Homo sapiens: one gene and its partners. The protein of the gene in region 2 interacts with the protein of the main gene of each other region in a pairwise test. Each region holds a gene or a part of one and is shown on either strand. Other genes may lie near its edges. The genes, in order: SHTN1, PRMT2 and DAZAP1.

Region 1 (3,652 bases), on a different chromosome or scaffold from region 2:
GGTAAAAGGTGCTGCATACTGTTGGCACTCAGAGGTAGCTCTCCCCATCCACAGCCATTCCACTTTCCCCGACTGAGTGTACCCTCAGGGATCTGTCCATTTGTATTTACCCTCAACACTTAAATAGGCAGTGTGGGCTATGCTCTCCAAAACTGAGAATCCTCTAGTCTTTTTATGTGCATGCACCTATCCCTCCAAGGGGAATCTGAGTTCTCTGAAGACAAAAAGCATGGTTTCTTTTCTTCTGTATTTCTTATTGTTTCCTAGGATAGGGCTGGGTACACACACAGCAGATAATAAGTATTAATAGAAGGCATTCAGATTTGAACCTTATATATTTCCAGTGTCTGCCTCCTCTATTCATAATAAAGATGGCTTTGGCTACAGGCTACTCTGATATTCACTAAAAAGAATGAAATACTTCTTAATTTTGGATCAATTAAAAAATAAATTATAATCAATTTTCATTGTGGATTAGAAAGCACTGAATGCTTTTAGAAGGAAAAAAGGCCTACATGGTTCTTCTGCATAGGTTTCAAAATTCTAGTATAAAATTAACCAAAAATATCTGAAGTGAATATTGAAGCTATTATAAAGGGAATGTACCTGACTTCTTAAATTACCGACCTTCCAACAGAGACTTACACATATGCCCGTATAGTAATCTAACTCGCACATTCCCGTTAAGCCTTCTAGAACTGAATGAATAAATCTTTTGATTTAAGTATCCCCTGGTGTTTCTAAAGATTTTCCATTTAATAGATATATTGTTGCCCAGTTCATTGTTAGGTACAATATAGAAAGTATTATTTCATGTGTATTATTAGACACCAAAGATGAAGGTAGTATGAACACCAAAGATGAAGACAGTATTTTTAAAAAGTTTAATTCTTTCTAAAAATGCACTCTAAGTGAACAAAATAAAGTACATAATGAACATTCATCTCTGAAGCTCTGAAAAATGCTGAAAAGTTGGTCTTCCTAGGCTAACGGTATCTCTGTGTCTAAATTCTGTATATGATGTTCACAAGGGCTCTAAGTCCAAAAAATTAGTCTAAATATTTTTGAATTATTTAATACAGCAGCTATTCTACTGAATTGCAATGGTTAGAAATTAAGGAATTTCAAAACAAATCTTGGTATTTTTCCACAGCATTCAGTAAATGTTCTAGACTAACTATATGCCAGGTTTTGTACTAGGCATGAGTAATTCAAAGATTAATAGTAAGACATAGTAGCCTACTCAATGCTTTTACCAGAGTGCTTTAAATTTCTGGCTTTCTCTTCAGAATTCTGATATTTCAATTCCAATTCCTTTTTATCTTCCTCTAGAAGCTCCAGTTGCTGTTTGAGGTTGTGTATTTCTTTGTGGAGTGTTTCATTTTCTAGTTGCTCTTCTAATTCTTTGACCTATAAGTTATTTAAAAAAAAAAGACTTTTATGGCTGACAGTTTTTCCTTTGTCAAAGAAAAGAAAGGGAAAAAATAAATATTTCCCTTTGACTGTACTTCATAGCAAACAGATTCCAATCCATCTTAACAACCATGCAAATGCTAGATACAATTAACACACAATCATAAATCAGCTAAAGAGCTGATTTAAAATAAATTTACTGGGGAGTTACGTACCAGACACTTTAATTTTTTTTAAGTTTTATTTTAGGTTCGGGGTACATGTGCATGGTTGTTATATAGGTAAATTGTGTGTCACAGGGGCTTGGTGTACAGGTTGTTTCATCACCAAGGTAAAAAGAATAGTACCTGATAGATACTTTTTCGATCCTCTCTCTCCTCCCACCCTCCATCATCAAGTAAGCCCCAGTGTCTGTTGTTCCCTTCTTTGTGTCCGTGTGTAATCAATGCTTAGCTCCCACTTAGAAGTGAGAACATTTGGTTTTCTATTCCCATGTTAGTTCACTTAGGATTATGGCCTCCAGTTCCATTCATGTTGCTACAAAGGACATTATCTCATTCCTTTTTATGGCTACACCGTATTCCATGGTGTAATATGTACCAGATTTTCTTTATCCAGTCTACCACGGATGGGCATTGAGGTTGACTCCATGACTTTGCTGTTGCATATAGTGCTGCGATGAATATGTGTGCACGTGTCTTTATGGTAGAATGATTTATATTCCTTTGGGCATATATCCAATAATGGGACTGTTGGGTTGAATGGTATTTCTGTGTTAAGTTCTTTGAGAAATCGCCACACTGCCTTCCATAATGGCTGAACTAACTTACATTCCCACCAGCAGTGTTTAAGCGTCCCATTTCTCTGAAACCTTGCCAACATCTGCTATTTTTTGACTTTTTAGTAACAGCTATTCTGACTGACATGAGATGGTATCTCATTGTGGTTTTGATTTTCATTTCTCTAATGATTAGTGATGTTAAGCATTTTTTATATGCTTGTTAGTCACACAGACACTTTAATTTTTAAACATGGGTCACTTTTGTACCCATTTTCAAAAGAAAAATTCAGGTAATATTTTAAAAGACTCCTGGGGGACACAAATTTAGTAATAAGTATCAAAAGTCTTCAAAAAAAAAAAAAAAGGAAAGGCTTTCGATTCAGTAAAACCATTTTTAGAAATTATTTTTTAAAATACTCTGAAATATATTCACTGAAGTGGTTTTTTGTTTTGTTTCGTTTTTGTTTTTGTTTTTGTTCTGAGATAGAGTCTCACTCTTTCGGCCAGGCTGGAGTGCAGTGGCGCGATCTGGGCTCACTGCAAACTTCGCCTCCTGGGTTCAAACAATTCTTGTGCTTCAGCCTCCTGAGTAGCTGGGGCTACAGGCACATGTCACCACACCCGGCTAATTTTTGTATTTTTAGTAGAGACAGGGTTTCACCACATTGGCCAGGCTGGTTTCGAACTCCTGGCCTTAAGTGATCCACCTGCTTTGGCCTCCCAAGGTGCTGAGATTACAGGCGTGAGCCACCACACCTGGCCTGAAGTATTCTTTACAACAGCAAAAAGTTGCAAATAACCTAAATGTCCACCAATATTTTTAGTTTAATAAATTATAGCATGTTTATTCAATGAAATACTATGCAACTTTTAAATCACATAGCTTACTATATACTGACATGAGAAGATATATTACCAATGGAAAAAAAATCAAGGCATAAAATAGTATGCATAGTATGATTCAATTTAAACAAACTATATTTATAAAGGTATATATTTACAGAAAGTTCAGCTATGCACCAAAATATGGGATACTTGGTTAATCTTCTTTAACTTTTGCTGTATTTTAAAAATGTATTATAAGGAGCATATGCTATTTTTATAATTGCAAAAACCATATGCTGTGCTTAAAAGACTGCTGCATCTGCAAGGGAACTTACAGACAGCTAAGAAACATTTTAAGCGACATACAGATGGTCCCCAATTTAGGATGGTTTGAGATAGTTTTTCGACTTTACAATGGTGTGAAAGCGACATGCATTCAATACAAACCATACTTCAAATTCTGGATTTTGATCTTTTCCCAGGCTCGCAATATGTAATAAGATACTCTCTCAACAATCCTCTGCAGCGGCAGCCAGCCACAGCTCCCAATCAGTCACATGATCATGCGAGTAAATAACTGATACTCTAGAGCAGGGTTCCCCAACCCCCAGGTCTTGGACTGGTACTGGTCCA
Region 2 (3,652 bases):
TGAACCCGGGAGGCAGAGGCTGCAGTGAACTAGGATCCTGCCACCACACTCCAGTCTGGGTGACAGAGCAAGACTACGTCTCAAAAAAAAAAAAACAAAAACAAACAAAAAACCTTCTAATATGGCCTCTTAACTTTATATAATTGAGTCAAACGTTATAGATTCTTTGCCCTATTCCTTCTTTCAACTAACATCATTTTTATAACATTCATCCTGCAAGTAACTGTTTTCATCTAGTTTTAAAATGTAACCAGAGATTGTTGCCTGGACCATCGGGTTATAGGCATTTCTCCATGGTGGGGAAAAAATTTCGGTAAGCTATTTAGAAGCTGGGCTTTTATTATTTTTTTAGGGACAGAGTCTGGTTCAATCACCCAGGCTGGAGTGCAGTAGCGCAATCATAGCTCACCACAGACTTGAACTCCTGGCTTCAAGTGATGCTCTGACCTCAGCTTCCCAAAGTCCTGTGATTACAGGCATGAGCCACCACACCTGACCTAAGTAGTATTATTCATAGATTTATAGAATTTTTTCTATTTTTTTTTTTTTTGAGACAGGCTCTCGCTCTGTAGCCCAGGCTGAAGTGCAACAGCGCCATCATGGCTCACTGCAGCCTTGGCCTCCAAGGCTTGAGCAATCCTCCCACTTCAGCCTCTCGAGTAGCTGGGACTACAGGCGTGCACCACCATGCCCAGCTAATTATATTTTTTTTTAATTTTTTTTTTGTAGAGACGAATTATATTTTTTATTTTTTCTCACTATGTTGTCAGGCTGGTCTTGAACACTTGGTCTCAAGCCAAGTGTCCTCTTGCCTTGGCCTCCCAAAGTGTAGGGATTACAGGTGTCAGCCACCACACTCAGCCTAATTTCATTTTTAAAGTAAAATTTACTGCTTTTTTTTTAAATACTGAGGGAGCACGCACATAATCTCATTGCTCAAATCATATCTCTAAGCCAGGGGTCGGCAAACTAAGCCATGGGCCAAATCTAGCCCACCACCTGTTTTTGGATGGCCTCCAAACTAACAGTGGGTTTTACATTTTTAAATGATTTTTTTAAATCAAAAGAAAATACTTTGTGACACATGAAAACTGTACAGTATAAATTCAAATTTCAAGATCCATAAATAAAGTTTTATTGGAACACAACAGTGCACACTTTGTGTGTCATCCACAGTGGCTTCCACACAACCATGTCAGAGCTGAGTGGCTACAACAGAGGAGCTCTGGCCTGTAAGACTATGGGCCTGCTCTGAACGTTGCAGTAGAACTAAAGCTAGAGAGAACCCACCGCCTGGCCAGCTGAACAGGGAATTTAGAAAGCAATACCAGAGTTCCATAGCTGCCGAAGTACTCTTCATCCTGCCACGTGTCCTCGGGGTCGTACTCATCCACGTGCTTCCCCACATGGTTTGCCGGAATGTACCCACAGCAGCCCGCACGCTCACCCCACCACCAATCTGCAGTGGTTTGTCTCAGGATAAGAATTTTTTCTCCTCTCAAAAAACTGAGCTGGAAAAAAAAAAGTTAAAATTCAATAAGAAAACCAGTCATTGGTATTTCAAATGTGGCTCAGTGATAAATCCCATCAATGGTGACAAAATCACAGAGATTTCAAACAGGAGTCAGTGGGTAATGACAGCAACTGAGAATGTTTGCAAGTGACACCATGACTTAGCGATGCCTCTGGAACATCTACCTGAAAGGAGGGCACAGCTTAACAGATATTTTTTAAAAGAAGGAGTAAACATTTTCAAATGGCTTAGGAGAGAATTTCTCAACAGCCTCTTCATTGTAACTCAACTATGCCAACTGAGTTACTGGAGGCTGACTCTAAGAAATTCCTGTCACAAAGTAAACAAAGCTATGTCCAAGCAGATATAGCTTGATATATTTGGTAGCCTTACTTTTCATTAACTGGGTGGGTTCTACATTCCAAGTAGAAACCAGAACAGGTGCTTCTGCCCCTGGCTGAGGGTCCCCACTCCATGCCTCGTATCTTTACATCATGCTTGAGGCAGAACTGGCTGGGCTGTGAGCTTCACACACAGGTCTTGTGTGGCCCTACGCATCTGAATACCTCTTCATTTAACTTTGGTGTGACGTCTGCAAAATTTATCTCCTTTTGACACTGAACATGCTGAAAGCCATAAAGCATTAACCACCACGTGTGGCTACCTGGGTCTCATCGGTGGCAGCGTAGTCCGCGATGGCCACAAACTCCTCTGGCTGTACTCCCTCCTGCAGGAGACCGGCCTCACTGCACTCAGCAGGCTCTTCTCCCTGCTCAAAGCCAAGGAAAGCGTGAGGAGAGGACGCTGGAGCTTTTTTTTTTTTTTTTTGGCTATATTATTAGGATGGTTTCAAATTTCAAATACAGATTCATGTGTCCAAGTATTTATTATACAAACTATTTGGATCATCTTTACTACTATAATCAAAGGCTGTCACCTTCACTCTACATTTCTTTTCTAAAAAAAAAAATTATCTGGACCCTAAAAGAGAACATCAAAGCAAGAAGTCAGAAACAGGCACCACTAGTGTCTATTTGGTGAGGAGCCCTTGTCCTTCATCAGCTTTGCTTCCTGAAGGTGATCATCAACCCCATGAAGAGAAACCAGTGTGAGGACAGAGCCAGGGGCCCAGCGCCCCAGGCAGGCACAGCCAGGGGCCTGTGGAAAGAGCTGATGGCATGGCACAAACCTCCACGAGGCAGCAGAGCCCAGCTTGGACCCACACAGGTCCTTGGAGCCTCCCCCAACCCCTCCATTTTTTTTTTTTTTTTTTTTTTGAGACAGAGTCTTGCTCTGTTGCCCAGGCTGGAGGGCAATGGCATGATCTCGGCTCAGGGCAACCTCTGCCGCCTCCCAGGTTCAAGTGATTCTGATGCCTCAGCCTCCCAAGTAGCTGGGACAACAGGTGTGCACCACTACACCCAGCTAATTTTTTGTATTTTTAGTAGAGATGGGGTTTCACCATGTTGCCCAGGTTGGCCTCGAAATCCTCAGCTCAGGCAATCCACCTGCCTCATCCTCCCAAAGTGCTAGGACTACAGGCATGAGCCACCATGCCTGGCCGTTCACTTTATATAAGAATAAGCTTGCCTGGAAGACATCACTGCAGGGGGCAGAACCTCAGATCACACACTCCAGTTCAATGAATCAACCTTGTCTCAATACATACATTTTAAACACATTTTCCTAAACATAAAAGTAATTCGTGTTTACTTTAGAAAATGTGTGAAAACACCAAGTACACAGAAGAAAATTAAAACCTCCTGTAATTTTGCTCACTGATCACAGATAATAACAGACAGCACATTGGTGTTTATACTTTCAGACTTTTAAAAAAGTGGACACGTAACATAAGTACAAAGCATTCACTGGGTTCACACAATAAGCCTGTGGCCTATGGTTTTCACTTTATAAACTCTGAACATTTTTCTTATTAAATATACTTCTAACACTATTTAATATCCAGTCTATGAATTATCAGGACTTACCTATCCAGTTTCCTAGTCTTGTACATTTAGACTTTTCAGTTTTTACTATTCTAAATCATGTTAAGATGAACTTCTTTCAACATAAATCATTCTGTATGTACCTTAATCTTCTTAGGGTAAGTCTCTGAATGTGAACCTGATGGACTGAGAC
Region 3 (3,652 bases), on a different chromosome or scaffold from region 2:
TCATACTGTGTTCGCTCAGCAGCCCGGGGCCCTTCCTCTCTAGACGTGTCAGGAGCCACAGTCTTCTCAGGAGGAGGGTGCGGGGCCGGGGACAATGGATGGAGCAGGCCTGACCTACTTATTCTAGGCGCAGTGGCTGACCTTCCTTTAATGCCTGCTTGAAAATATGGGTGGACTAACAACAGAAAGATCCCCCCAATTCCGGGGCTGCCTCAGCATTTGAGAATCCTGAATTTGTCTCACTTTTCTGATAAATCGTAATGAGAATAAAGAGACAATGGATCCACCTGGAGTCAGCCTTGGGGTCTCAGTCTGGAGAGCTGCACATCCTGAGTTCAGAATCCCTCAGTTCTGCCTGTTAGAGAACAGACAGCAGCAGCCACAGAGGCACAAAGCCCCCACCTGCCCAATGCCCCAAGGACCGGCCTATGATGGGAACAGGATCCGTTAGCTCAAGGCAATGTGACAGCAGGACCAAGGGACCCATTTCAAAGAACTCAAATGAGCGAGTCTTCACACACCCTCCTCAGGGGACTGCGGTTCCTGCTTACAAAGCAGAGCGGTCCTTGTACTTTAAAAAAACAAAAACAAAAAAAAATTCTTTCACCCTTTCCTACCTGAATGCAGCAATGCAGTCGCCTGGCATGGAGGGTTAACTACCACGCGGTACCAAACACTCCACAAACGGAAAACCCCCATGAGGGGCCGGCGGCGACGCCAAGTGCCGCTCCAGCCAACCAGTGAAGGCCGGCGCCGGGCAAGCTGGACTCCAACGACTGTCTGGCTTGGAAGGCGAGACCCACACTGAGGTCGCCCAGCTCAGGAGCTCGCGCAGAACAGTCATGGCTGGGGGGACCCAGGGGCTGCCCAGGGACGGCAGCAGGTGTGTGCACTGTACAGAGCTCTTTCTGCCCCGTATATCAAGACCACGCTTTCCCCAAATTGTCAGTGTCGTAGTCCCTTAAAACACTGGGCGCAGACTCCTTGAAGCCCTGCTTGTACTGTCGCGCACCCATGCAGCCGGCAGGCTCATTTTAAACCACAAGCTGCACTCGATGTCAGAACAAGGATTGTGTCTCCTGTTTTAGTTGGGTTCAAATGGAATTAATGAAGTCTGCAACCCAATCTAAGCCACGTGTATACAAAAATAACTACACATGCTACTGTTTTTAAAAAAGTTCTGCTATCAAGACCTCTGGCTGGGGTAGAGGGCAGGGGCAGGAGATAATGAGCACGATGCTCCCTCCAGGACATTTTAATTGAAAAAACAACCATGGCCCTGTCAGAGGGGCTAAGCGTCTTCTTCCGTTAACGGGAGAAGCTGCCGCACCAAGGAGGCCGGGTCAGAATCCCACTGGGCATGTGAGGCGGCCTGGCAGAGCCAGCAGAGCTCCTTGGTTTGAAAGGACCAAGACAGGAATCCTGCAAAAACCTGGACCCCTAAGCTTTTGCTAACTGCAAGAAATTCCACACTGTAGAATTTCTACCAGTTATTTATTTCAGAGTCCACTTCTCAAGAACCTCCAAGGGTCCAGGTAAAACAAGGATTTAGGGACCCCTTTCTGACACATGCCTTCCAAGGGCTGGCCTGGGGGTTGGGGGGGTGGCCTCCTGTCCCTCTCACCTCCGGGGGTAACACAGTATGAAGATGACACAACCAGAGGTCACTTGACTGCATGGTGGCTGAGTACTACCGAGAGCATGTGGCTGGTGCCGGAGTTCCACAGTAAGTGACCCAATTCAAACAACCAGTCCTTCATGATGTTTCCACTGTGCTTTCCATTTTAAGCGGAACCTCGGCTCTCAAAGGTCCCTTGCTGATCACATTACAGGTCAGTGTCAGACAATGGGGATTTGCAGACATCTGAAGGAGTGGTCGTGGAAACCAAGCCTGAGGCAACGCTGCGGTTTCACTGGAGCCAGCCCCAACACCGCCACAGCCTCCCAGCCCCAGCCCCCTACCCGCCCAGTCCCAGGTCACCCAGAGGGAGGGGCTCCAGGAGCAAAGCTGAGAGATCCCCACCCCGCAGGAAGGGTGCTGGGGAAGGATGGGACCCTCCTCACGTCTACAGACCCAGGCCCACCTCACGCAGCAAAGGTTCACAGGACGAACTCGCCCGACCCTTTCCGTGAAGGAATGTTCCTTTCCAGTGAAACCCCTAAGTTGCCTAAGACTTGGTTTGGTCTTAAGGTAAAATAAAACTACAACTACACACTTTTTTGCCCATGATGTCGTGAAAATGCATGTTGACAGCCTGGTCCACTGATTGTTCGTCCTCGAAAGTAATAAATCCAAAACCTAGCCAACGACGAAGAGTGAATCAAGGTAGCAGGGTGTTGTGACACAAAACAGGATGATGAACAGTATTAGGGACGGGCCGAGGGATCGACCTTGGGTTTCAGCTAAGCTGTGTGTGGGGCGCTGCGGGCCCCTGGGGCAGCTGCCTCCCTCCCCAGGAGCCACCACTCGACTGCACACGGAGTGGACAGACGGTGACGTCCGCACTCCCGGTGACGGCTCTGCTGACTGAGGCCTGAGTCAAGCCTCCGCCCCAGACACCCCGGGCTGGGGCTCCGTGTCACAAAGATTTGGAACAAGGAGCACATCTTATAAAACAGCAGCGGAGACAGGGGAACGGTGAGGGCCTCCATCGCTACTGGCAGACAAAGCGCCCCCCAGGGGAGGGTCAGAGGCCCGTGCTTGAATATTCTGGCTCTCGCCTGTGGGGAGATTGCCAGTGAACCCTGCAGGCCGGGGGCCCGCGTGGAATGCGCCATCTTAGTCAGGGGTGTGCACCGTGGATGTGTGTATGCTTCTCTGAAACCCAGGATTCTCCCCCTTGGCTTGCAATTTGCTTTGCAGCTAGTGCTGACAGCAGCCATATATCGTTCTAAAGCGTTAACAGATACAGTATCTATCATAGCTGGTGCCTCGCTAGGCTTACGCAACACCGTTGGGTAAGCCCAAGGAGTCCTAGAAGAGGTCATATCGTAGACATCTATGCATGTTCTATACAGGTAGAGAAACAATGCACAAAGATACAGGCCACAACGGGTTCCAGCAGGTCAGACTCTGCTGCCAGCAGCAAGAGCGAGATGCACCATGGGATCAAAACAGAAAATTTTAAAGGCAAAAAAAATTTAGCATTTCCCAAACACAAGAGTGGCAGTATAAACGAAGTTTAGTGGGTCTGGGGTGGGCGCGGCCCCCGGCTAACGGGGCGGGTCTCCTCCTCTAGGCGCAGGAGTGCGCCGGGCTCTCCAGGCCTCCCCGGCTAGGTGGAGCGTGACACCGCAAAGCACACCGTCCTCCCGAGGCGGGGCCCAGGCGGCACCAGCCCCTCCCCAGATGGAAGTGCCCGGCAGACAGCTGCCCAAGACCTCACAGAACAAAGATGGACATGGGAAGAGCTGAGACCGGGCTGAAGATGGGCTGCCCGCGCCAGAGGCACAGGGTGCGTGACAAGGCACCACACAGCAGGGGACAGCGCAGCACGGGCGTGAGGCGTGAACGAGCGCGGCAGAGAAGGGCCGTGGGGGGTGGGAACAGGCAACGGCCCCCGGAAGGAGCAGCCTACTGTGGGGCCTCTCAAGCTGAAGAGACAGGGGCCAGGGCTGCTGTAGCTGGGACCAGGCAGAAACAGGACAAGCA

What was found.
Region 1: the proteins of PRMT2 (region 2) and SHTN1 interact in a two-hybrid assay, tested with the Homo sapiens proteins (one large-scale study listed by BioGRID and IntAct).
Region 3: the proteins of PRMT2 (region 2) and DAZAP1 interact in a two-hybrid assay, tested with the Homo sapiens proteins (one large-scale study listed by BioGRID and IntAct).

The regions. Positions count from the first base shown.
Region 1 is NC_000010.11:116,928,593-116,932,244, forward strand, and holds part of SHTN1 (shootin-1), read right to left. Parts: intron 1,411-3,652; coding exon 1,257-1,410; intron 1-1,256. UniProt on the Homo sapiens protein: Involved in the generation of internal asymmetric signals required for neuronal polarization and neurite outgrowth.
Region 2 is NC_000021.9:46,642,165-46,645,816, reverse strand, and holds part of PRMT2 (protein arginine N-methyltransferase 2), read right to left. Parts: intron 2,283-3,652; coding exon 2,178-2,282; intron 1,512-2,177; coding exon 1,329-1,511; intron 1-1,328. UniProt on the Homo sapiens protein: Arginine methyltransferase that methylates the guanidino nitrogens of arginyl residues in proteins such as STAT3, FBL, histone H4. Acts as a coactivator (with NCOA2) of the androgen receptor (AR)-mediated transactivation.
Region 3 is NC_000019.10:1,424,525-1,428,176, reverse strand, and holds part of DAZAP1 (DAZ-associated protein 1), read right to left. Parts: intron 2,300-3,652; coding exon 2,217-2,299; coding exon of another isoform or gene 2,216-2,216; intron 1-2,215. UniProt on the Homo sapiens protein: RNA-binding protein, which may be required during spermatogenesis.